Regions from separate parts of the Homo sapiens genome. Here region 1 is linked to region 2. A link means that fine-mapping ties the variant in region 2 to the expression of a gene that starts in the linked region. Tissue or cell type: whole blood. Region 2 holds a variant in brackets; the other region holds the start of a gene. All regions are shown on one strand. Distances are between the middles of the regions.

Region 1 (2,749 bases), 130 kb before region 2:
ACAACAGTTTTCAACAAGAGTTGGAAACACTGAGTTGAGGGTTTTTTTTTTCTTTTTAAAGTTTGAGGCCAAAATCGATATTTATTCTTTTGAATTATGCTTATATCTTTTTCCTGGTTAATACGCACGCGGTGGCACAATTTTGAAAACTACGTAACGTTATAGAACCACCACCCAGAAACGAATCCTGTTAACAAACTTTTTGTATTCAAACTTTTTCCACTGCATAGTTTTTGACAATGCTTTTTAGACAATCTTTCTTTTAGCAACCAGCACTTTCAAACAAAAATTACAGAGAATAGTAAGTTTTTTTCCCCTCCTCCGGCAGATTTGACCCAGAAATTGCTATGGGAAGAAAGTGTTAATTATATTAAAAAATAGTTTGACAGAAAGTATTTAAAAAGAGAAAGGGAGAACATCACGTCTTTATTTTGGTGAATTAGCAACAAAGAAAAAGATTAGCATGGACGGGTACTTTTCAAAAATATATTTTTTTTCCTCTGGCTCCCGCTAGGGTGGAGGAAGTTGTCTCTCTGTCAGAGACAGGGTGGAAGAGAGTGAAAGGACAAATGATTGAGAGGCTGCCCCCTCCCACTGGTGCAGGCGTGCGGGGGTCGGATGGGGGGCCGCGGAGGGGGGAGGTGGCCAGCAGGTGCCTGGGCTCCAGGCCCCTACCCCCACCCTCGTCCCCACCCTCACCCACACCCAGGGATTGGCCTCGCCCCCTGGCGGGCGAGCGGTAGGTGTCGAAGCACTGGGGTGGGGGGTGCAAACCCCGCGGGCAGCGGAAAAGAGGCCGTGGGGGGCCTCCCAGCGCTGGCAGACACCGTGAGGCTGGCAGCCGCCGGCACGCACACCTAGTCCGCAGTCCCGAGGAACATGTCCGCAGCCAGGGCGCGGAGCAGAGTCCCGGGCAGGAGAACCAAGGGAGGGCGTGTGCTGTGGCGGCGGCGGCAGCGGCAGCGGAGCCGCTAGTCCCCTCCCTCCTGGGGGAGCAGCTGCCGCCGCTGCCGCCGCCGCCACCACCATCAGCGCGCGGGGCCCGGCCAGAGCGAGCCGGGCGAGCGGCGCGCTAGGGGGAGGGCGGGGGCGGGGAGGGGGGTGGGCGAAGGGGGCGGGAGGGCGTGGGGGGAGGGTCTCGCTCTCCCGACTACCAGAGCCCGAGAGGGAGACCCTGGCGGCGGCGGCGGCGCCTGACACTCGGCGCCTCCTGCCGTGCTCCGGGGCGGCATGTCCGAGGCTGGCGGGGCCGGGCCGGGCGGCTGCGGGGCAGGAGCCGGGGCAGGGGCCGGGCCCGGGGCGCTGCCCCCGCAGCCTGCGGCGCTTCCGCCCGCGCCCCCGCAGGGCTCCCCCTGCGCCGCTGCCGCCGGGGGCTCGGGCGCCTGCGGTCCGGCGACGGCAGTGGCTGCAGCGGGCACGGCCGAAGGACCGGGAGGCGGTGGCTCGGCCCGAATCGCCGTGAAGAAAGCGCAACTACGCTCCGCTCCGCGGGCCAAGAAACTGGAGAAACTCGGAGTGTACTCCGCCTGCAAGGTACGCGCTCGCCGCTCTCGGACCGCGGATGGGTGCTAGGGGCCCAGCCCGCGGGACCCCCCTCCCCCTCCCGCTTCCACCTCCGCCTCCCGCCTCCTGCCTCTCGCCTCCCGCCTGGGGCCGCTGCACCGCGGAAGTGCTCTTGTCGCCCGCGCCCAATTAGCTTCTTCTTGGATAAGAGTCCTGCTGGGTTTGAAGAAGGGGGATCACTAAGACGGAGAGCCCTTCATTCCTTCCGCTTGAAAGGAGTAGCTTCGGCATCCGAGCTCCCGGGCTACCTTGGGGTTTTGTTGCTCTGTAGGAGCTCGCTGGAGTCACTTTCCCGGGAGTGGAGCGGTGCTCTCCATGTGGCGGGTGACCCAGGGGCAAGGAAAAATCTTTTGGGGGACTGAGTGGTCCCTTCTGCAATCGATCCCTTCCTGTGTCCCACTGGGAGGAACTGGGTGCAAGGAGTGGGGGTGGAGAAGACTCCCGGACTCCTGGCGCTTTGGGAAAGCGAAGGGGAGGAAAGCGCGGGGTGGGAAGGTGGGCAGAGTCCGAGGCGAGGGTCTTGTGGTGCCTGGCGCCCTCGGCTGGGGGCGGAGGCACTGCCGCGCGCGGTGACAGCCCTGTCATTATTGTATTATTACTTGTTTAGTTAAAACGCTGTCCCAGCTGCTCGAGGTGTAAACAGGATTTGGCAAAGTGACAGCCCAGCGCGGCGGGCGCTACTGCTCAGTTTGAGGACACCCATTTCTTGCTACCCACTCTCCATGCCAGTTTAGGCACCCTGTCACCTCCAGCTGCAGATCCAGATGTGGAGGCTGTGTTCCCGAGGTGGGAGGATTGCCCGAGGCCGCGGGGCAGGCTGGCCCTGCGCTGTCAGCAGCGGCTTTGTTTTGACAGGGTGACAGCTGAGGGGGGCGGGGACTTGGCCTTGTCAGCTCCTGCGGCCTGTGGCTGAGGCAGGGAAGAGACACACTCACACACACTCACACCTCCCTGTATTCTTCCTGCCTGCTGTAAAGAGGGTCAAGTTCCCAGATTCCAGATTCCCGATTGTCACAACCAAGCTGCAGTGACCACTTCTGAATTTTGACATAACTATAATTTATTCTACTAGAACATCTAGGTTATACTCTTCTTGGTACTTGCAGGAGCTTCTCAGTCACAATGGAATGTCTATGCTTGCTCTTTTTCCACACCATATGCTCAGGTTTATGTTAAGCACCTCTGT
Region 2 (2,500 bases):
AAGAAAATATGTATACATACAATGAGATGTTACTCAACCTTAAAAAGGAATAAAATTTTGATACATGCTATAACATGGATGAACCTTGCGATTATTATGCTAACTAAGCCAGACACAAAGGACAAATATCCTATGATTCCATTTCTGTGAGGTACCTGGAACAGTCAAATTCATAGAGATAGAAAGTAAAAGTAGTGGTTACCAGAGGTTGGGAGAGAGGGGAGAAGAGAGAGTGATTGTTCAATGGGTATAGAGTTTTAGTTTGGGAAGAAGAAGTAGTTCTGGAAAAGGGTAGTGATGGTTGCACAATCATGTGAATGTACTTAATGCTACTGAACTTTACAAATAAAATGATCAAAATGGTCAGGTGTGGTGGCTCATGCCTGTAATCCTAGCACTTTGGGAGGTAAGATTGGACGATTGCTTGAGGCCAGGAGTTTAAGACTGGCCTAGGAAACATAGCCAGTCCCCATCTCTACCAAAAAAAAAAAAAAAAAAAAAAAAAAAAAAATTAGCCAGGTGCAGTGGTGCAAGCTTGTAGTCCTAGGTAAAGGGGATCCTTTGAACCCAGGAGTTTGAGGCTACAGTGAGTTATGATTGGCCACTGCACTGCAGCCTGGGTGACAGAGTGAGAATAAAAAAACAAAAATAAAATTTAAAAAGATCAAATGATAAATTCTATGTATATTTACCACCCCTACCAACACACAAAAAAATTGTGACTATACAATATACCCAGCATAAAGCTAAACAAATAAAGCAATGCAAAGAAGCCCATTCTATGACAAAGCTAGGAATATTCAGCAGTGGGGAAAGAAGACATTAGTCAATGAATTGTGCTGGGACAACTGGTTATCCTCATGGGAAAAAATAAAATTAGATCCCTAGTCCTCAAAATAAATGCCATATGGTTTAAAGACCTTAAAGTGAAAAACAAAAATGTACAAATTATAGACAAAATCTTAAGGAAGAAGGTGGTAGACGATACTAATATTTAAAACTCCTAAATATCAAAGGGAATTATAAGCAAGGTATAAAAAAGGGCAGAGATTGAGGAAAGATACTTAGAATACTTGTCAACAGAAAAAAAGGAATAGTGTGTAGACTATATAAAAAATCCATAGTTTTACATTCTATTAGAAAAGCAGGCAAAAGATATAATAATTCATAAAGGAAGAAATGAGAATAATAAACACTTGAATTCTCATAAATAAATCAATCAGATACAAGTTCATAGTAATTAAAACAAAGAAATAATTTCATACTTCCTGGCTTGGCTAATTTTAATGTCTAATAAAACTAAGTGATCGACAGTGTGTGGTGCTACTGGAACTTAGAAACTGCTATTAGGAGAGTGATATACTCCTTATAACAGAATTGGTGGAACCACTGTAGGAAGCAATTTCCTAACTAATAGTAAAGTTAAAGTTCA[A/G]TATACTCTACAACCAAGCAACTCCACTTCTAGGTATTAACTTTATAGAAAGTTAAGCACTTTAAGTGTACAAAGATGCAGAATATTCACTGCAGCACTAATTTGTAAATAATAAAGTGGAAATGAATTGTGTCTCAAAAGAAGAAATGAATAAGTCTGATTTATATAATAAACTGTACAATGATGAAAATAATCTACATCTGCCAACACGGATAAATCTCAAAAACAATATTGAGTTAAAAGTCAGTTGTAAAATGATGTGTACAATATTCCTATAAAATGTTAAGATATAAAACAATACTTAAAAGCCTATGAACAAATATGACAGCAAGACTATAGGAACACTAAAAATACAAACAATTCAACACTGATTTTAGGATAATGATTGACTTTGGGGATGAAGGGAAGGTAAGGATCAAAGCTAGATCAGAGTGTCAGACCAGAATGATCTTTAAGGCAAAAGTAAAGTACTCAATGGTCTAGAGCAGGAGTTGGCAAACTTTTTTGGTAAAGACCAGAAAGTAAATATTTTAGGATTGTAGGCCAAGAGGCAAACTCAAGAATATAATGTAGGTACTTTACTGGAGTTCAAAGTTAGTGCTTCTATCATTAAAATTGATTTCAAATGTTTGCTTTTTTTTTTTTTTTTCAACTATTTAAAAACGTAAAAACTATTCTTAGGTTGAAGACCATCCAGAAGCAGGTGGTGTGCTAGATTTGGCCCATAGTCCAACTGTACTTTCTGTGATGATGGAAATGTTCAATATTTCCTCAATTGTCTAATATGGTAACCACTAGCCACATATGGCTACTGATCATTTGAAAGGTGGTTACATGGACTGAGAAACTGTTTTTTTTTTTTTTTTGAGATGGAGTCTCGCTCTGTCACCCAGGCTGGAGTGCAGTGGCACCATCTCGGCTCACTGCAAGCTCCGCCTCCCGGGTTCACGCCGTTCTCCTGCCTCAGCCTCCCAAGTAGCTGGGACTACAGGCGCCTGGCTAATTTTTTCTATTTTTAGTAGAGACGGGGTTTCACCGTATTAGCCAGGATGGTCTCGATCTCCTTGA

The links. PIP is the estimated chance that this variant, and not a neighbour inherited with it, causes the effect.
Region 1: KAT2B starts here. The variant in region 2 is fine-mapped to the expression of KAT2B in whole blood (TOPMed, PIP 0.98).

Annotation. Positions count from the first base shown.
Region 1 is chr3:20,039,248-20,041,996 of GRCh38, forward strand. It overlaps KAT2B (lysine acetyltransferase 2B), which reads left to right and starts at 1,199. Exons shown (of 18, transcript NM_003884.5): 1 at 1,199-1,533. The coding sequence starts at 1,231. RefSeq lists silencers at 461-1,100, 1,271-1,400, 1,601-1,660 and enhancers at 824-1,794, 2,511-2,700.
Region 2 is chr3:20,166,363-20,168,862 of GRCh38, forward strand. It overlaps a transcript of SGO1 not described here. Among named protein-coding and RNA genes, the nearest start is that of SGO1-AS1, 6.7 kb to the right of the region's middle. The variant A/G (reference allele first, on the strand shown) is at 1,433.